Linked DNA regions of Homo sapiens. The protein of the gene in region 1 purifies or fractionates together with the protein of each later gene. This does not show direct contact. Each region holds a gene or a part of one and is shown on either strand. Other genes may lie near its edges.

Region 1 (7,588 bases):
TGCGACAGATCTCCAAACTGTGTGACAAACCTGGAGATTCTTCTAGAAGATACAGTGAAGATTTTGCGGGTAGAGGTGGAAATAATCGATGTTAATGATAACCCACCCAGTTTTGGGACAGAACAGAGGGAAATAAAAGTTGCTGAAAATGAAAATCCTGGGGCAAGATTTCCTCTTCCTGAAGCTTTTGATCCGGATGTAGGTGTAAACTCCCTGCAGGGTTACCAGCTCAACTCAAACGGTTACTTTTCCCTGGACGTGCAAAGTGGGGCCGATGGGATTAAGTACCCAGAGCTGGTGCTGGAACGCGCTCTAGATCGCGAGGAAGAGGCGGTTCACCACCTCGTTCTCACGGCCTTCGATGGAGGTGACCCGGTTCGCTCTGGCACTGCCAGGATTCTCATAATACTTGTGGATACCAACGATAATGCTCCCGTGTTCACTCAGCCCGAGTACCACGTAAGTGTTCGTGAGAACGTTCCTGTAGGCACTCGGCTACTCACCGTAAAAGCCACTGATCCAGATGAAGGAGCCAATGGAGACGTGACGTATTCTTTCCGGAAAGTAAGAGACAAAATATCACAGCTATTTCAGTTGAATTCTCTGAGTGGGGATATAACAATATTGGGGGGTCTAGATTATGAGGACTCTGGATTCTATGACATAGATGTAGAAGCCCATGATGGGCCTGGTCTCCGAGCTAGAAGCAAGGTACTGGTGACAGTTCTGGATGAAAATGACAACGCACCAGAAGTCACAGTTACATCTCTCACCAGCTCAGTCCAGGAATCTTCTTCCCCGGGTACAGTAATTGCACTTTTCAACGTGCATGACAGTGACTCAGGAGGAAATGGCCTAGTCACATGTTCTATTCCAGATAATCTGCCATTCACACTTGAAAAGACCTATGGAAATTATTATCGGTTGTTGACACACAGAACACTGGACAGGGAAGAAGTCTCAGAATATAACATCACTGTAACTGCCACTGACCAGGGAACTCCTCCACTGTCTACAGAAACTCATATTTCACTGCAAGTGATGGACATCAATGACAACCCACCCACTTTCCCTCATGCTTCCTACTCTGCTTACATTCCTGAAAACAACCCCAGAGGAGCCTCCATCTTATCTATGACTGCTCAAGACCCTGACAGTGGTGACAATGCCCGAATCACTTACTCCCTGGCCGAAGACACCTTCCAGGGTGCACCTCTGTCCTCCTATGTCTCCATCAACTCCAATACAGGGATCCTATATGCTCTTTGCTCCTTCGACTATGAGCAGTTTAGAGACCTGCAGCTGCTGATGACAGCCAGTGACAGTGGAGACCCTCCACTCAGCAGCAATGTGTCACTGAGCCTCTTTGTGCTGGACCAGAACGACAATGTCCCTGAGATCCTGTACCCCACCTTCCCTACTGATGGCTCCACTGGTGTGGAGCTGGCACCCCGCTCCGCAGATTCCGGCTACCTGGTGACCAAAGTGGTGGCAGTGGACAGAGACTCAGGTCAGAATGCCTGGCTGTCCTACAGCCTACTCAAGTCCAGCGAGCCGGGACTATTTGCAGTGGGGCTGCACACAGGCGAGGTGCGCACCGCACGGGCCCTGCTGGACAGAGACGCGCTCAAGCAGAGGCTTGTAGTGGTCGTCCAGGACCATGGCCAGCCCCCTCTCTCGGCCACCGTCACACTCACTGTGGCTGTGGCCGACAGCATCCCAGATGTCCTGGCTGACTTGGGCAGCCTCAAGCCTTCAGCAGACCCAGACGACTCGGGCCTCACACTCTATCTCGTGGTGGCAGTGGCCGCTGTCTCCTGCGTCTTCCTGGCTTTTGTCACGGTGCTGCTAGCACTCAAGCTGAGACGCTGGCACAAGTCACGCCTGCTTCACGCTGAAGGCAGCAGGTTGGCAGGTGTGCCTGCCTCGCACTTTGTGGGCGTGGACGGGGTTCGGGCTTTCCTGCAGACCTATTCCCACGAGGTCTCCCTCACCGCGGACTCGCGGAAGAGTCACCTGATCTTCTCCCAACCCAGCTATGCAGACACGCTCATCAGCCGGGAGAGTTGTGAGAAAAGCGAGCCTCTTCTGATAACTCAGGATTTACTTGAAACAAAAGGAGACCCTAATCTTCAGGTGAGTCAATCTTATAATAGATCATACCACACTGAAATATAGACAAAGAGTTGTGTAAATGTCTCTCATTTTATATGTAATATATCAAATAAAGTTGCCTCTTTTAATATTTTATTGCTTTAAAGAAAACTGGTGGATGACCTTCCAATAATGATCAACAGTATTTACCACACAAAAATGTTGTTTATTACTTATCCTTTTTGGTCTTCATTCAGTTGTAGTTTCAGCCAGAATTTTCTAATTTTACAACTCTGAGCCACCTCATTTCCTTAAATTTCCTTTTCTGTGCTGGGTGTGGTGGCTCACACCTGTAATCCTAACACTTTGGGAGTGTGAGGAGGACGGATTGCCTGAGCTCAGGAGTTCGAGACCAGTCTGGGCAACATGGTGAAACCCAGTCTCTACTAAAATACAAAAAGTTAGCTAGGCGTGGTGGTGTGTGCCCGTAGTCCCAGCTACCCTGGAGGCTGAGGCATGAGAATTGCTTGAACCTGGGAGGCAGAGGTTGCAATGAGCTGAGATCATGACACTGTACTCCAGCCTGGGCAACAGAGCAAGCCTCTGTCTCCAAAAAGTAAAATAAAATAAAGTAAAATAAAGAATAAATTTCCTTTTCTCTTAGGTGTTCCTGAAAAGATACAAGAGACCTGTAAAATAGAAGGCAATTGTGTAAATTCACATTTACAATATTCTTTCTCATGAAGCTATTGTTGGATCTGGACTGAGGGTTTTTTAATTTCCTATTTTCACACTCTACCATGCTTTGCTTGAAGTTTACTTTTCCTTCCTTGAAAGGGTATTTTCCATTATAACAGGCAACGTCAATTTAAGAATACTGGCAATTTGTGAGTTTAACTTTTAGATATAACTTTAACAGGATATTTTCTCAATGAACTGGTATATTTCAAATATTTTCTTGTTGCTGTTCTGAGATGCACCAGAAGTGACTATGTGTGATTCCTCTGGTGCACTCCTGTGATTATGAGAAATATTTCCAAGCTAATTTCAGTCATATATAAGTAGATTCTAGGAGTAACTTTAATAATTTTTAAATTGCTTATCATGACATCACTATTGAGACTTTCTTGATTTCCAAGGAAAATATAAGTTTTTGGAGTCTTTTCTCTTGTCATCATGTGAGCCTCTTTCAAAGGTTGAGTTACTTGGGTTCTGGACTGATATGATTTACGCTGCTTAGTAAGGTGGCCTCATCCCTATTGCTACAAATTGCTTTCAGATATTTCTGTCATCATGTGGCTCTGGGATTATTTTATATGAGGGAAAATATTTTGTGTGTAGGGGATATACAACACTTTTGTTCTTTGTGCTTTCATTTAGGTTCTGTGAGAATTCAAAATTCATGAATGCATATGCTTACACAAATTAGTGTAATTTGATAACTGGAAGTTGTAGTGATAGACTGTGGAATATGCCTCAATTTGACTTACAAAGGAGAGTTTTAGTTTCTACATGGTTTTGTATTCATAGAAAGTTGTGGTGCAATACATAGAGTAAGCTGGAATATGATATGATGCAGTTACCTGGCTTGGGGAGCAGAAAGCAGAAATAACAAGTGAATGTTGAGAGACAACTTACATCTGAGGAGAGATTGTTTAAAGTAATTAAGCCATAAAATATAATTTGGAAATGCTCAATTGGTCTGAAACTGTGTCAAGCATATTCAGGTGTTGGCATTAGGAATATATTCCAGAATGAGAGTGCCACATGTTTTAAAGGCCTAGGAAAGCAGTAGATAATTTATAACCTAAAATCAAATTTTTTAAAAAATGTGTTTTTGTTAGAATGGGCAGTGGGTTTCTTTTAGCAAATAACAATTTTGATTAAACAAATTGTTGTATATTCATATTACGGACTACTAGATAACTATATTATGGGCCACTAGATAACTATAAGAAATAAATAGGAAAGCTCTCTATGTACTGATATGATCTTTAAGATATAACAACTAAAAAAGCAATGTGCAGAATATGGTATGTTGTATGCTTACATTTGTGTAAAGAAGGAGACAGAATATTTATAAAAATCCGTTGCCCTATACAAGACATATCTCCGGAAGGATACCTAAGAAACTTTAACACTCATTTCCCCTGTGAAAGCATTTCTCCTCATCTAAAGCAGAGATGAAAGGAAGAACCTATGCTGAATGCATCTTTTGAATTTGGAACTATATGAATATTTCACATATTTTAAAACAAATGAAGACTTTATAAATTAAAAAAGAAAAGAAAAGAAAAAAGTTCTTAGCAAATATTGACAAGCCATTAGTGCAGTTTCCTGAGAAAACCTCTGAGCGTCGCTGTTGGTCAAAAGAACGAAGAGAAGCGTTTGGGAGCCTCTTAGAGGGGAACTTCCTGCACAAACCAACCACACAGAGAAGGCCAGTATAGATTCGGAAACAGAAAACAAAAGCAGGAAAAGTGACCTTAGCCCGGATTCTGCCATCCCCGGAAGGCTTATTCCTCCTATGGGCAAAGGAGCAAAGGGAGCCAGAAGATGAAAGCGAGCTCAGGGAGGTGCGGGCTGGTGCGGTGGCTGCAGGTACTGTTGCCCTTCCTGTTGTCTTTGTTCCCCGGGGCTCTCCCAGTCCAGATCCGCTATTCAATTCCAGAGGAGCTGGCCAAAAACTCGGTCGTAGGAAACCTCGCCAAGGATCTGGGGCTCAGCGTCCGGGACTTGCCAGCCCGGAAGCTGCGGGTTAGCGCGGAGAAGGAATATTTCACAGTAAACCCAGAAAGCGGAGACTTACTTGTGAGTGACAGAATAGACCGAGAACAGATATGCGGGAAGCAGCCTCTGTGTGTTCTGGATTTCGATACTGTCGCTGAAAATCCACTAAATATTTTCTACATAGCAGTAATTGTGCAGGATATAAATGATAATACCCCGCTATTCAAACAGACTAAGATTAATTTAAAAATTGGCGAATCCACTAAGCCAGGTACAACATTTCCACTTGACCCAGCCCTGGATTCAGATGTTGGTCCTAACTCACTACAAAGATACCACCTTAATGACAACGAGTACTTTGATCTCGCTGAGAAACAGACTCCAGATGGTCGTAAATATCCTGAGTTGATTCTAAAACACTCTCTGGACAGAGAAGAGCACAGTTTACATCAATTGGTCCTCACAGCTGTGGATGGCGGAGACCCACCTCAAAGTGGCACGACCCAAATCCGAATCAAAGTCACGGATGCCAACGATAACCCTCCAGTGTTCAGCCAGGACGTGTACAGGGTCACCCTGAGGGAGGACGTGCCGCCGGGCTTCTTTGTGCTTCAAGTGACAGCCACCGACCGGGATGAAGGCATAAACGCAGAGATCACCTACTCCTTTCATAATGTGGACGAACAAGTGAAACACTTTTTCAACTTAAATGAAAAAACAGGAGAAATCACGACAAAGGATGATTTGGATTTTGAGATTGCAAGTAGTTACACTCTGAGTATCGAAGCAAAAGATCCTGGAGATCTAGCAGCCCACTGCAGTATCCAAGTTGAAATTCTTGATGACAACGATTGTGCACCTGAAGTTATTGTGACTTCAGTATCTACTCCCCTACCGGAGGATTCGCCACCAGGAACAGTGATCGCCTTGATAAAAACGAGAGACAGAGACTCTGGAGAAAATGGAGAAGTTTACTGCCAAGTGTTGGGAAATGCCAAGTTTATTTTGAAATCTTCCTCAAAGAACTATTACAAACTAGTGACAGACGGCGCTCTGGACCGGGAGGAGATCCCAGAATACAATCTCACCATCACAGCCACCGACGGGGGCAAGCCGCCCCTCTCCTCCAGCATAATTGTCACCCTGCACATCTCCGACGTCAACGATAATGCCCCAGTTTTCCAACAGACTTCCTACATGGTTCACGTGGCAGAGAACAATCCTCCTGGCGCCTCTATCGCTCAAATCAGTGCCTCTGACCCTGACTTGGGCCCCAGTGGCCAAGTTTCCTACTCCATCGTAGCGAGCGACCTGAAGCCGCGGGAGATTTTATCCTACGTGTCCGTGAGCGCGCAGAGCGGGGTGGTGTTCGCGCAGCGCGCCTTCGATCATGAGCAGCTGCGCGCCTTCGAGCTCACACTGCAGGCCCGCGACCAGGGCTCGCCCGCGCTCAGCGCCAACGTGAGCCTGCGCGTGTTAGTGGGCGACCTCAATGACAATGCGCCACGGGTGCTGTACCCCGCGCTGGGGCCTGATGGCTCCGCCCTCTTCGATATGGTGCCACGCGCCGCAGAGCCCGGCTACCTGGTGACCAAGGTGGTGGCGGTGGACGCAGACTCAGGACACAACGCTTGGCTGTCCTACCACGTGCTGCAGGCCAGCGAGCCCGGGCTCTTCAGCCTGGGGTTGCGCACGGGTGAGGTGCGCACAGCGCGTGCCTTGGGCGACAGGGACGCGGCCCGCCAGCGCCTGCTGGTCGCTGTGCGTGATGGAGGACAGCCGCCACTCTCCGCTACGGCCACGCTGCACCTAATCTTCGCGGATAGCCTGCAAGAGGTATTGCCAGACCTCAGCGACCGCCGGGAGCCCTCTGACCCCCAGGCAAAACTGCAGTTTTACCTGGTTGTGGCCTTGGCCTTGATCTCAGTGCTCTTCTTCCTCGCGGTGATTCTGGCAATCTCCCTGCGCCTGCGACTCTCTTCCAGGTCAGATGCTTGGGACTGTTTTCAGCCTGGTCTCAGCTCCAAGCCTGGACCTGGGGTTCTCCCCAATTACAGTGAGGGTACATTGCCCTATTCCTACAACCTGTGTGTTGCCTCACAATCAGCCAAGACAGAGTTCAATTTTCTGAACATAACCCCGGAATTGGTTCCCGCGCAAGATCTCGTCTGTGACAATGCCTCTTGGGAACAAAATACAAATCATGGAGCCGCTGGGGTCCCTTTTGCCTCAGATACTATTTTGAAGGTGAGCTTTAATTAATTTATTTTCACTTCTGGTTTTATTGTTTCACCTAATTTGGGTAGGAAGTTCCACTGCGTATTTCTTTGTCTGTGAGTTAGATTTGGCCAATGTTGTGCCTTAATTGTCTTAATCTTATCTAACTGAATTTTAAGTGTTTTCTCTCTGAAGTGTGAGATTTATTTACCCATGATTGCAAACCTTTATCACATGAGATATTGCACTGTATTTCTTTTTCTTCCTCATCTTTACATTACTTCTCTCTGCAGATTTGTTGCTATTGAGACTTTAGGCAATTAGTTTCACCTTCAGGCTCTTTGTTATTCAAATTTTAGTTTTACTTCCTCTTAGAATCATAATACTTCAGAGTAAAGAGAGTCTTCATTTTAGTAGGCTTTGGAAATTGGGAAACAAAGAAGAAAGACTTTTGCATAATGGCATGGCTTGTTAATCACAGGGCATGGGTAGGACATTGTCCCATTGACTTGAAGACCAACACTCAGTAAGCTAAATGTCTTGGAAT
Region 2 (7,108 bases), on another chromosome or scaffold:
CTGTCTCAATCTCAAACAAACAAACAAAACACCCTCCCGCACAGCCAACTCTGCGTGAATTACTCTTTGTCTTGCAGTTCTCCTCTCTTGATGAATCAGCTCTGTCTAGGCAGCGGGCAAGGTGAACTCCTTGGGCGGTTACACACCATTCATCCCTCCATCCATTCATTATTTCCTTTAGCTGGTATTTTGTGAGCCTCTGCCCTGTGCCAGGCCTTGTGCTGGCAATGCTGGCGAAACAGCAGGGACCAAACCAGCACCAATCTGTGCCCTCAAGGAATTCCTAGTCCTGCGGGGGACAGACGTATCCCCCAACAGTGGGCAGAGCTGAGATGGGGGAGCCCACTGGGCACCTGACATGGCATGGGGTTCAGGGAGGGCTTCCTGGCAGAGGAGACATCTGAATTGGGACCTGAAGGGTGAGGACAACACCAGGACAAGGCGTAAGGAAAGCACTGGGGCAGAGGGAGGAGCACACACAAAGCCCACATGATTAAGGGAGTGCACTTTTTTTCCCCCTCTGTAAGTTTGGATGCTTAAAGTTTGCTTTCCAGGGCCCGGAATTCTTGGTTGTTCGGTGTTTGGTGGGGTCTTTGTTGGGGCTGCAGCTCTTAGAATGGGAAAGTATTAGATTTCACAGTTACCAAAGTGCTTTCCTGTTAGCCATCTCATTTGACCCCCACAACTGTTTTGTCCCCATGTCCGGAAAGAGGAATGACTTCCTCTGGTTTATAGAAGGGAAAATGGAGGTGTTGAGGGCAGCAGTTAATTGCTCAGGTCATACGCAGAGATTTGTGCCAGAGGCGAAACTTTGGACACTGAATTCCTAGACCCAGTTTGTTTCCTGTCTCTGCCTGTCTTCCAAACACTGTGACATTCTTAGCGTTGTGGTTTAGAAAATGGCTTCTGGAGCTGGGCGCAGTGGCTCATGCCTGTAATCCCAGCACTTTGGAAGGCGGAGGTGGGTGGATCATGAGGTCAGGAGTTCAAGACCAGCCTGGCCAACATGGTGAAACCCTGTCTCTACTCAAAATACAAAATTAGGCAGGTGTGGTGGCGCACACCTGTAGTCCCAGCTACTTGGGAGGCTGAGGCAGGAGAATTGCTTGAACCTGGGAGGCAGAGGTTGCAGTGAGCCAAGATCACACCACTGCACTCCAGCTTGGGCGACAGAGCGAGACTCTGTCTCAATAAATAAATAAATAAATAAATAAATAAATAAATAGGCTTCTGTGCTGGGCGCGGTGCCTCCCACCTATAATCCCAGCACTTTGGGAGGCCGAGGCAGGCAGATCACCTGAGGTCGGGAATTAGAGACCAGCCTCACCAACATGGAGAAACCCCGTCTCTACTAAAAATACAAAATTAGCCAGACGTGGTGGCGCATGCCTGTAATCCCAGCTACTCGGGAGGCTGAGGCAGGAGAATCGCTTGAACCCAGGAGGTGGAGGTTGCAGTGAGCCGAGATCACGCCATTGCACTCCAGCCTGGGCAACAAGAGTGAAACTCTGTCTCAAAAAAAAAAAAAAAAAGGCCGGGTGCAGTGGCTCGCGCCTGTAATCCCAACACTTTGGGAGGCCAAGGTGGGCAGATCACGAAGTCAAATTTCAAGACCTGCCTGACCAACATGGTGAAACCCCTTCTCTACTAAAAATACAAAAATTAGCTGGGCGTGGTGGCACGCGCCTGTAATCCCAGCTACTCGGGAGGCTGAGGCAGAAGAATCACTTGAACATGGGAGGCGGAGGTTGCAGTGAGCCGAGATCGTGCCACTACACTCCAGCCTGGGTGACAGAGCGAGACTCCATATCAAAAAAAAAAAAAGAAAAAAAAAAAGAAAGAAAATGGCTTCTGGAGTCAGACTGACATAGGTTTGAATCCCTACCCAGACTGGTGACTTTGGGTACGTCATTTAGCCCCTCTTAGCTTCAATTTCCGATTCTGTACATTGGGTATTATGTAATGGTCACATTAACTGGGCTTGTACTTTGTGCCACGGCTTGTCTGCAGCACCTTCCAGCCTCTGGCACTGGGTCCTCACCAGTTATGATGAGGTAGATACTATTATTATTATTATTATTATTTTGTGTATATACTATGTATGCATTATGCTGTAAATAATATTTATTGTGTTGTGGTGAGGATTAAGTAAATGGATATAAAATGTTAAGTCAGTGCCTGGCATAGGGTCATGGCTGTCACGTAGATGTTATAGATACAACAGGCAGGAAAAAGCAAAACATCTTGCCCTCAGGTACCTTACATTCTTGTGGAGGAAGCCAGACAATAAATGAAATAAATAGTTGGCTGGGCCCAGTGGCTCATGCCTGTAATCCCAGCACTTTGGGAGGCTGAGGCTGGTGCATCACTTGAGGTCAGGAGTTTGAGACCAGCCTGGGCAACATGGTGAAACCCCATCTCTACTAAAAATACAAAAATTAGCCAGGTGTGGTGGCAGGCACCTGTAATCCCAGTTACTTAGGAGGCTTAGGCAGGAGAATCACTTGAACCCAAGAGGCAGAGGTTGCAGTGAGCCGAGATTGCACCACTGCACTCCAGCCTGGGTGACAGAGTGAGATTCCATCTCAAAAAATAGTTAAAAGATGAAGTATATTAGATAGCAATAATTGCTCTAGGAAAAAAATCAGGGTTGTAGAACAAGGAGTATTTAAAGGAAGGCTATAAGCCTAGATAGGATTGTCAGGGAGAACTCACTGAAAATATGCCAAGGAGGGAGGGAACGAGCAGCATTGCCATCTGGGGGAAGAAACGTTCCAGCCCAGAGGATCCCGCATGCACACAGGACCTGAGGCATGAGCGTGCCTGGCACACAGGACAGAGGAAACTGATGACGGGAAAGGGGGACAGTTTGTATGGGGCCTGTGGGTCACTGCAAATGCCTTGGCTTTACTCTGAGTGGAACAGGACTTACTGGAGGGTTCTGTGCAGCAGAAGGACAATATCAGAGTTCTGTTTTATTTTATTTTATTTTATTTTTTGAGACAGAGTCGCACTCCGACACCCAGGCTGGAGTGCAATGGTGTGATCTTGGCTCACCACAACTTCCGCCTCCCGGGTTCAAGTGATTCTCCTGCCTCAGCCTCCCGAGTAGCTGGGATTACAGGCATGCGCCACCACGCCCGGCTAATTTTGTATTTTAAGTAGAGATGGGGTTTCTCCATGTTGATCAGGCTGGTCTCTAACTCCCAACGTCAGGAGATCTGCCCGCCTTGGCCTCCCAAAGTGCTGGGATTACAGGCATGAGCCACCACGCCTGGCCCGGGAGCAGAGTTTTTAAGGATAACTTGGTGGGTGAGGGGAAGCCAGTGAGCCAGGAGTGCTGATTGGTCAGAGATGAAATCATAGGAATTCAGAGATGTCTTGTGCTCAGTTAGTTCCTGGGTGGCGGTGGGGGAGGGGGAGGGCGGGCACAAGATCAGATGAGCCAATTTTTTGATCTGGGTGGGGCCAGCTGATCCATCAAGTGCAGAGTCTGCAGAATATCTCAAGCACTGATCTTAGGAGCAGTTTAGGGAGGGTCAGAATCTTGTATCCTCCAGCTGCATGACTCCTAAACCATAATTTCTAATCTTGTGGCTAATGTTAGTCCTACAAAGGCAATCTAGTCACCAGGCAAGAAGGAGGTCTGCTTTGGGAAAGGGCTGTTACCATGTTTGTTTAAACTATAAACTAAGTTTCTCCCAAAGTTAGTTCAGCCTTCACTCAGGAATGAACAAGGACAGCTTGGAGGTTGGAAGTAAGATGGAGTCAGTCAAGTTAGATCTCTTTTGCTGTGTCAGTCATAATTTTGCAAAGGCAGTTTCAGGATTACAGGCGTGAGCCACCACGCCTGGCCTCAAAATCTAAAATATTTACTCTCTGCCCCTTTACAGGAAGAGTTTTCTGACCCTGCTCTAGAATAGTATCCCTGCCCTTGTTTTTTGACATTGACATTGGAGCCAGTCCTCTGATTGATAGTGTGTCCCGATGTCTGGAGTCTCCTGATTGCTTCCCCGATTGGATTCATGTTGAACATGTTTGGCGGGAACACCACAGACTCGAGGTGCCTCCTAAGGACATCCCTTCAGGGGACTCCTGAGGTCTATTTGTTCTGTCATTTGTGATGGTGATTTGGATCGCTTGGTTAAGGTGTAACCATGTCAAGAACCTTTCCTTTTCCTCTTAGTAATGAATAACCAGTAGATTTGTTTACAAGGTAGAGCCAGCAGGATTTCCCATGGATTGGGTGTGAGACAGCCGACTGGAGGAGGGGCAGGTTGGACAGAAAGACCTGGAGCTCAGTTAGGGACAGGTCGAGTTGGAGATGCTACCAGATATTGCAATGTACTGGCTTCTTACATTTACACCTTTTAATTACATCATTAGTGTCTTCACACTGCTGATTGCCCTTTGCTGTGGCCCCCAGCCATGGTGATTGGAATTTCCCAGGGTGCACTGGCGGCCCTGCTTTCTCTCAGGTCAGGCGTCCTGAGCTGACCAGCAAATCCAGTATCTGTACCTTTGGCTGAGATACTTTTGACTCAGCAGGCTGCGCCCAGCTGTCTCACAGGAGAGGCTGGAGCAGTAGCTGTGGCTGCCTGAGGAAAGAACAGTACATGCTAGAAGCATAAATCATCGATGATGCACCCTGTTGGGGAGGCAAAGATCTTTTTAAACACAGAATTCCTTTGTTTAAATTATTTTAACCCAAAAGTAAAGGAGGTTGGTGATGTTAGGCAGGTTGAGGCCATGCCTGCAAAGTGCACTTTTGGTGCTCCCAGGGAGGCTGTGAGATATCTCTGGGCAGTAGGAAAATTCCAGCTCATCTGTGTTTATTCCTTTGGCGCGCACTGGTCCTTTTTCTGGTTTATCACACACAGTAGGCAGTAGAGTGACTGGTCCCCCAAAGATGTCCACATCCTTATCCCAAGAACCTGTTGAATATGTTACCATGCACAGCAAAGGTGACTTTGCAAATGTGATCAAATGAAGGATTTGGGGATGGGGAGATGATCCTGAATTATGCAGGTCAGGTCAGTGTGATCACAGGGGTCCTTATAAGGGAAAGAGGGAGGCAAGAGAGGGAATGATTTGAGGGATGCTGCCCCGCTGGCCTTGAAGATGGAGGAAGGGAGGCATGAGCCAAGGAATGCGGGCAGCCTCTGGAAGCTGGAAAAGCCGAGGAGATGGATTCTCCACTGGAGACTTCAGAAAGGAACACAGCCCTGCGGACACCTTGAGATTAGCCTAGTGAAAGCCATTTTGGACTTTTTTTTTTGGGGGGGGGGGGATGGAGTTTCATTCTTGTTGCCCAGATTGCAGTGCAGTGGCACGATCTCAACTCACTGCAATCTCTGCCTCCTGGGTTCAAGCGATTCTCCTGCCTCAGTCCCCTGAGTAGCACCCACCACCACACCTGGCACCCACCACCACACCTGGCTAATTTTTTGTATTTTTAGTAGAGATAGGGTTTCACCATGTTGGCTAGGCTGGTCTTGAACTCCTGACCTCAGGTGATCCACCTGCCTTGGCCTCCCAAAGTGCTGGGATTACAGGCGTGAGCCACTGCGCCCAGTTTTTTGTTTTGTTTTGTTTTGTTTTTTGAGAGGGGGTCTCACATGGTCGCCCAGGCTGGATTACAGTGGCATGATCTCAGCTCCCTGCAACCTCTGCATCCCGGTTTCAAGCGATTCTCCTGCCTTGGCCTCCTGAATAGCTGGGATTACAGGCGCATGCCCTAATTTTTGTATTATCAGTAGAGACGGGGGTTTCACCATGTTGGCCAGCTGGTCTTCAACTCCTGACCTCAGGTGATCCACCCGCCTTGGCCTCCCAGAGTGCTGGGATTACAGGCGTGAGCCACCACAACTGGCCCCCATTTCAGACTTCTGACTTCTGGAACTGTAAAATAATAAATTTAGGGCAGGTGCGGTGGTTCATGCCTGTTATCCCAGCACTTTAGAAGGTCGAGGCAGGAGGATCACTTGAACCCAGGGGTTCAAGACCAGCCTGGGCAACAAAGCGAGACCTTGTCCCTACTAAAAATAAAAAACAATTAGTGGGGCATGGTGATGCATGCCTATAGTTTTAGCCACTCAGGAGGCTGCGGCAGGATTGCTTGAGCCCAGGAGAATGAGGCTGCAGTGAGCTGTGACCGCACCCCTGCACTCCAGCCTGGGTGACAGAGCAAGACCCTGTCTCAAATAATAATAATAATTTGTGCTGTTTTAAGCCACTGCATTTGTGGTAGTTTGTTATAGTGGCCGTGGGAAACAGATACACCATGATCATTCATTCAGGTTGCTGAGGTCATTTTTTCAGAAGTGCTCAGCTCTGTGGCCATTCTTATGAATTTAGGCCATGGACTTGGTTTCAGTTTTCTTTTTCTACATAGCCATCTGATCCAAAGCTTGGTGGCTTACCGTAGTAACTCTTAGCCAGGTGCAGTGGCTCATGCCTGTAATCTCAGCACTTTGGGAGGTTGAGGTGGGTGGATCACTTCAGGCCAGGAGTTCGCGACTAGCCTGGGCAACATGGCAAAACCCTTTCTTTACTAAAAATACAAAAATTTAGCGGGTACCTGTGGTCCCAGCTTCTCAGGAGGCTGAGGCAGGAGAATCGCTTGAACCTGAGAGAGGTGGAGGCTGCAGTGAACCGAGATCGTGCCACAGCACTCCAGCCTGGGCAACAGAGCAAGACCCTGTCTCAAAAAGGCAAACAAACAAAAAACCCAGTCACTCTTAGTTTCTGTTACCTTTGTGGCTTGCCTGGGCTCAGCCGGACAGTTCTTTTGCTGGTTGCTGCTTGGCAGGCTCTCATCCAGGTGCAGGTGGAGGTGGCTGGGCTGGAGTCATCTGGAACTGGCACTGGGACTGGGGAGTTGGTTCCCTCTCAGCGTAGCCTCTGGGCCTCTCTTCTCCACGTGGTCTTTCCTGCAGGGTAGCTGAATATCTCACATGGCTGCTCAGGACTCCCCAACAGCCAGATTTTCATGAGGGAAGAAGCAGAAGCTGCAGGTTATTTAAGGGCAAGGCCTGGAATCTTCCAGCGTCATTTCCACCACACTATTGGTCAAAGCAGCTCCAGGCACAGACCACAGTGGGTGTGG
Region 3 (7,108 bases), on another chromosome or scaffold:
CCTGTTGATATGGAGAGTTGTATTGAAGACTCCCATTATGATTCTTGTAGGGGTTTTTGTACTATTTCTATGTTTAATATATATTTTTCTTTAAATGTTGTATTTTTGAAGCTGTTTTATGTGCTTAAAGGTTCACAATTCTTGTATCTTCTTGGTGAATTGTACCTTTTGGGAATAAACGAGCCATCTTATTTAATTTTTTTTTTGTTCATTCTCTTTATATTGCTGTACTTGCTTTTTGTTAGCATTTATATGGAATATCTTTTTCTAGTCACTGATTTTCAATTTTCTGTGTCTTCTTTAATTGTTACTCTTACCATTAGCTTATGGCTGGATTTTGTTTAATTAGTTAATCTTTGTCTTTTAATAAATATTGTGGTAAAATAACATAAAATTTATTATTTATTATTTTTATTTTTACCATTTACTACTTTTAAGTTTACAGTTCCCCAGTGTTAAGTGTGTGCACATTGTTATGCAACCAATCTCCAGAATTTTTTCATCTTACAAAATTGAAGCTCTGTATCCATTACCGCAGCCCCTGGCAACCACCATTCTGCTTTTTGTCTCTATGAATTTGCCTATTTTAGGTACCTTGCATGAGTATCTAATATAGTACCTCATATAGTATTTGTCTTTTTATAACTGGCTTATTTCATTTAATGTAATGCCCTCAAGGTTCATCCATGTTGTAGCATGTGTCAGAATTTTCTTCATTTTTATTGCTAATTAATATTCCATTGAATGTATACACCACATTTTGCTTATCCATATATTTATCAAAGGATATTTATGTTGGTTCCACATCATAGCTATTATGAATAATGCTGCCATGATCATGGGTGTACAAATATCTCTTCAAGACCCTGCTTTCAGTTATTTGGGTATATACCCAGAAGTAGAATTGTTGGATCAAGTAGTACTTCTATTTTTAATTTTTTGATGACCCAGCATAGTGTTTTCCGCAGAGGCTGAACCATTTTATATTCTCACCAGCAATGCGTGAGAATTTCAGTTTCCATACATCCTTGCTAACATCTGTTATTCTCTCTCTTTTTTTGATAGTAGCTATCCTTATGGGTGTGAAATCTTTGTCTTTTAATAGGTAGCTTTAGCCCATTTATATTTATTTTGATTACTGATCTTTTGCGGATTATTCCTGTCATCTTATTTTATATTTTTGATTTCCTTTTTTGAGACGGAGTCTTGCTCTATCGTCCAGGCTGGAGTGCAGTGGCACGATCTCCGCTCACTGCGACCTCCGGCTTTCGGGTTCAAACGATTCTCCCAACCCAGCCTCCCGAGTAGCTGGAATTACAGGCCTGCAACCACTATGCCCGGCTAATTTTTGTGTTTTTAGTGGGGACAGGTTTTAACCGTGTTGGCCAGGCTAGTCTCAAATTTCTGACCTCAAGTGATCTGCCTGCCTTACCCGCCCAAAGTGCTGAGATTACAGGCATGAACCACTGTGCCGAGCTGGTTCATTTCATTCTCATTGCTGTGTATATGCCATTGTATATATCCCTAATATAGATATACATTTGACTTTGATTGGCAGTTGGTTGTTTGCATTTTTGGACTATTATGAATAGTAAGTACATGAACACTCTAGTACACGTCTTTTGTTGAGTGAGTGTGTGCATTTCTGTTGAGTGTGTATCTGGGAGTGGAACTGCTTGGTTGTAGTCTGTGCATGTGCTCGGTTTTAGTAGATACTAGCAAACAGTTTTCAGTACCGGTTGCACCAACTTATTTACCCCAGAAGTATATGTGGTTGCTCCACATTCTTGCCAACTCTTGGTAATTTCTGTCTTTTACCTTTTAGTTATTCTGGTGGATACTGTGGTTTTAATTTGGATTTTCCTGATGATAAATGAATTTGCACTGTTTTGGTACCCTTAGTTTTTCACACATATCTAAACATTTTTTTCTCTTGCTATTAAAAGATAATCTGTTTATGTGAACTCTCCATGAGTAAAGCAAAAAAGAATCTTATCATGATTTTAATTCTGTCCCATATTAAATTTTTGGGTTTTCATACATTATGCATAAACAGTTATTTAGGTAAACTGTAAATTTTTCTGATTATTTACTCATCATTGGTGCTTTTATTTCATTTGTTTTCTTAATGAGTCCTTAAGTGATTATTTGGTTTTGTTTTCAGGGATTCTGTGAATGGTAAACTTTCTGAACCCTTGCATGTTTAAACAATGTTTTTTATTTCACTTTTCCATGTGAATATTCTTGACTGGGTATAGGATTCTACGTTAAAACCTTCTGAATTTTGGAGATATTGCTTTATCTGCTGGTATCTAGGAAGAAGTGCACGCGTCTGACTCTCGTTTCTTTGTAGTTAATGTTTATTTTCTCTGAAGCTTTACAATTTTTTTTCTTTCTCCTTGGTGTTCTAAAATTTAACTATTATTTGTCTAGGAGTGGATTTTTTTTTTGAGATGGAATCTTGCTCTGTCACCCAGGCTGGGAGTGTGGCATGATCTCGGCTCACTACAACCTCCACCTCCTGGTTTCAAGTGATTCTCCTGCCTTAGCCTCCCAAGTAGTTGGGATTACAGATGTGCACCACCATACCCAGCTAATGTTTGTATTTTTAGTACAGACAGGGTTTCACCATGTTGGCCTGACTGATCTCAAACTCCTGACCTCAGGTGATCCACCTGCCTCGGCCTCCCAAAGTGCTGGGATTACAGGCATGAGCCACTGCGCTTGGGCACCACACTGGCTTAAGAGTGGATCTCTTTTGTTCTTCCTGCTCAGCATTTGGTAGTCCGTTTCATTCTAAAGATTAATACACATTTCTATGGCACTGGAGAAGTTTTGAGTGTTTCCTTGCCTCTATTCTATTTTCTGCTTCTGGAATTATTCTTACTTGGGAATTAGAATATCTTGATTTATCTTTCATGTTTCTTGAAATAAGCATTTTTTTCTCTCAAATATTCTGTCTTTTTTAATTTAATTTTTTTTTTTTTTGAGACAGAGTATTGCTGTGTTGCCCAGGCCTGGAGTGCAATGGTGTGGTTCAATGTGACCTGCAACTCTTGGACTCAGGCAATTCCCCTGCCATACCACTGTGCCCAGCGGAAATGCTCTCTTTATCTTTATGGGCTGCATTCTGGGATGTTCCTTGGGCTGGTTTTGCAGGTCACCAATCTAATATTTAGATTTGTTCCGTCAACTCTTTAGCCCATCTCTTGAGTGTTTTTAAATATTGATTATCATATTTTTAACTTTCCGGGTCTCTATTTTTTTTTTTTTTTTTTGAGGTGGAGTCTCGCTCTGTCGCCCAGGCTGGAAGGCAATGGCACTATCTCGGCTCACTGCAAGCTCTGCCTCCCAGGTTCACGCCATTCTCCTGCCTCAGCCTCCCCAGTAGCGAGGACTGCCGGTGCCCACCACCACGCCCGGCTAATTTTTTGTATTTTTAGTAGCGACGGGGTTTCACTGTGTTAACCAGGATGATCTCGATCTCCTGACCTCGTGATCCGCCCGCCTCGGCCTCCCAAAGTGCTGGGGTTACAGGCGTGAGCCACCACGCCTGGCCACGGGTTTCTACTTCTTAAAGTTTAACTTTTGAAATAGGTAAGATAGGCAGGGCGCAGTGGCTCACGTCTGTAATCCCAGCACTTTGGGAGGCCGAGGCGGATGGATCACGAGGTCAGGAGATTGAGACCATCTGGCTAACATGGTGAAACTCCGCTTCTACTAAAAAAAAAATAAAATAAAAAATTAGCTGGGCGTGGTGGCGATTGCCTGTAGTCCCAGCTACTCAGGAGGTTGAGGCAGGAGAATGGTGTGAACCCGGGAGGCGGAGCTTGCAGTGAGCCAGGATGGCACCACTGCACTCCAGTCTGGGCGACAGAGAGCGACTCCATCTCAAAAAAAAAAAAAAAAAATAGGTAAGATAATCAGTGTTCAAAACCAGACTGTATTAAAAAGGCATAAATGAAAGTGAGAGGTGACAGCGTGCTGGCAGTCCTCGCTCGCTCTCGGTGCCTCCTCAGCCTTAGTGCCCACTCTGGCCGCGCTTGAGGAGCCCTTCAGCCCACCGCTGCACTGTGGGAGCCCCTTTCTGGGCTGGCCAAGGCTGGAGCCAGCTCCCTCAGCTTTGCAGGGAGGTGTGGAGGGAGAGGCGCGGGCGGGAACCGGGGCTGTACGCGGTGCTTGCGGGCCAGCGTGAGTTCCCGGTGGGCGTGGGCTTGGCGGGCCCCGCACTGGGAGCGGCCGGCCAGCCGGCCCCAACGGCCCCAGGCAGTGAGGGGCTTAGCACCTGGGCCAGCAGCTGCTGTGCCCGATTTCTCGCTGGGCCTTAGCTGCCTCCCTGCGGGGCAGCGCTCATGACCTGCGGCCCGCCATGCCTGAGCCACCCCCACCTCCTGGGCTCCTGTGCGGCCCGAGCCTCCCTGACAGCACCACCCCCTGCTCCACGGCGCCCAGTCCCATCGACCACCAGAGGGCTGAGGAGTGCGGGCGCAGGGCGCGGGACTGGCAGGCAGCTCCACCTGTGGCACTGATGCCGGATCCACTGGGTGAAGCCAGCTGGGCTCCTGAGTCTGGTGGGGACTTGAGAACCTTTATGTCTAGCTAAGGGATTGTAAATACACCAGTCAGCACCCTGTGTCTAGCTCAGGGATTGTAAACGCACCAATCAGCACTCTGTCAAAATGGACCAATCAGCTCTCTGAAAAATGGACCAATCGGTTCTCTGTAAAATGGAGCAGTCGGCTCTCTGTAAAATGGACCAATCAGCAGGATATGGGTGTGGCCAGATAAGAGAATAAAAGCAGGCTGCCCGAGCCAAGAGTGGTAACGTGCTGCGGTCGCATTCCGCGCTGCTGAAGGTTTGTCCTTTTGATGTTTGGAATGCGTTCTTATTACTGCTCACTCTTTGGGTCTGCACTGTCTATATGAGCTGCAACACACACCTCGAAGGTCTGCAGCTTCACTCCTGAAGCTAGCGAGACCACGAACTCACCAGGAGGAACGAACAACTCTAGATGCGCCCCCTTAAGAGCTGTAACACTCGCCGCGAAGGTCTGCAGCTTCACTCCTGAGTCAGCGAGACTACGAACCCACCAGAAGGAAGAAACTCCGAACACATCCAAACATCAGAAGGAACAAACTCCAGACACACCGCCTTTAAGAACTGTTACGCTCACCGCGAGGGTCCACGGCTTCATTCTCCAAGTCAGACCAAGAACCCACCAATTCCGGACACAAAAGGTGTTCCCACCATTCCTGTCCTCTTACTTCTCTCGCCTTACAAGTAGGTAACCATTGTTGTTAGTTACTTATGTACCTTCCAAAGTTTCTTCATGCAAATACAAGCAAATATGAATCAGATTCTCCATTTCTCCTTTTTTGCACAAATAGTAGCATTATTCTCTATCTGGTCTTCATCCTGTGTTTTTATTTCTTGGTATATCACAAAGATCGTCACATACCAACTGCTTGCTCTTTATAATGTCCCCTTAGGTCTTCCCAAGAATATCTAATAATTTCTTCTATGTGCTCTAGTAATTATCTTTGCTTGGGTTTGTGTTCTGTTGATTCAGTGTCCCTGTTTCATCATACTGAATAAAAACTTGGTGATTCTTTATGTGTTCATCTTCGAAGTTTGAGAATTCCTTTTTTCCTGTCTTACTAGGCGTAGCGTGCCTCCTGTGATTGTTGAAGAGCTGTGGTGTGCTGCTGAGTGGCGTGTGTATTCCATGTGAGGGGAAGGGTCCAACAGTCCTGGTCATTCAGACTGCAGTTCCCCAGGTAATCACCTTGTCAGGTTCTACCTCTGCTGTTCTATCTGCTGTTACAAGTCTGTTCCTGGAAACCTGTTACCATTTCCTTCTGCATAACAGCCTCCTCCCAAGCTTGTATTGGGCTATGGTTTGCTCAGGTAATCTGGTTCTGAGTACTTTTTACTTTTCAGAAATTTCCTAGACATTTTAGTTGGCCATCGGCACTCTTGTTTTCCAGGTTTCTTTTGATTTAGTGTTTTAAAAATGTTTCTACCATTCCATTGAATTTTAAGACACTTGGAAGGCAGAAGTATGTGTTTAGTTTATTGTTTTGGGGACAGGGTCTTGCTCTGTCTCCCAGGTTAGAGTGCATTGGCGCAGTCATAGGTCACTGTAACTTTGAACTTTTGGGCTTAACTGGTCCTCCTGCCTCGGCCTCCCAAAGCGCTGAGATTACCGGCATGGGCCACCATGCCCAGTCCTTGGTCTTTTATAATTTATTTCTGTGTTGGGGGCCCCCAGGACCATGCTCAGATCTGGTGGTTCACTTGGAAGACTCAGCATGTGGTGTACTCACGGCTGTAATTTATTACAGTGAAAGGATACAAAGCACAATCAGCAAAGGGAAAGGTGCATGGGGCCAAGTCCAAAGGAAGCCAGGCACAAGCTTCCAAGCATCCTCTCCCAGTGCAGTCACACAGGATGTATGTGCTTAACTCCCCGAGGAAGGAGCTGTGACAACGCATGTGAAATGCTGTCTACCAGGGAAACTCACTAGAGACCCAACACCCAGGGTTTTTATTGGGGGCTGGTCATGCAGGCCCCCTTTGCCCAGCACATACCACATTCCACGCTACCTGAAGAAAAGCAGGAGTTCAGCATAAACCACACAATAATTTAGGCACAGTGAGTCCCTCTTTCCAGGTTGGATGGTGGGAACCCTTCTGAAATCTAAGTTCCCAGGTGCCAGCCAAGGATTAACCATGCTTTTTATGAGACTTTTTAAGAATAACAGTCTTGGGCCAAGCACAATGGCTCATGTCTATAATCCCAACACTGTGGGAGACCAAGGTGGGAGGATCTCTTGAAGCCAGGAATTTGAGACTAGCCTGGCCAATACAGAAGACCCTATCATTCATTTATTTATTTATTTATTTATTTATTTATTTATTTATTTATTTATTTATTTATTTTAAAAAGCAGTCTTAGGCCTGCTGTGTTAACTCTTTTCTGTAAGATTTTCCTCCTGTGTTCCTCAGAAAAAGATGGACACTTTACCTAGAAATGACTTCTCCCAGTCAGATGGTCATGAATTTTTTTGCCTTCTCTGAAGAGAGAACACATTTGTATTAAGGTGA

The links.
Region 2: the proteins of PCDHGB2 (region 1) and OPA3 purify together in Homo sapiens (co-immunoprecipitation; 2 studies listed by BioGRID and IntAct, with this or other methods). This does not show direct contact.
Region 3: the proteins of PCDHGB2 (region 1) and SPECC1 purify together in Homo sapiens (co-immunoprecipitation; 2 studies listed by BioGRID and IntAct, with this or other methods). This does not show direct contact.

What each region holds. Positions count from the first base shown.
Region 1 is NC_000005.10:141,355,486-141,363,073, forward strand, and holds the start of PCDHGB2 (protocadherin gamma-B2 isoform 1 precursor), read left to right. Parts: upstream 1-4,508; 5' UTR 4,509-4,650; coding exon 4,651-7,071; coding exon of another isoform or gene 7,072-7,086; intron 7,087-7,588. Other genes in the region: PCDHGA4 (protocadherin gamma-A4 isoform 1 precursor), read left to right, coding at 1-2,136. UniProt on the Homo sapiens protein: Potential calcium-dependent cell-adhesion protein. May be involved in the establishment and maintenance of specific neuronal connections in the brain.
Region 2 is NC_000019.10:45,574,718-45,581,825, reverse strand, and holds part of OPA3 (optic atrophy 3 protein), read left to right. Parts: intron 1-7,108. UniProt on the Homo sapiens protein: May play some role in mitochondrial processes.
Region 3 is NC_000017.11:20,012,325-20,019,432, forward strand, and holds part of SPECC1 (cytospin-B), read left to right. Parts: intron 1-4,820; exon of another isoform or gene 4,821-5,281; intron 5,282-5,662; exon of another isoform or gene 5,663-5,778; intron 5,779-7,108.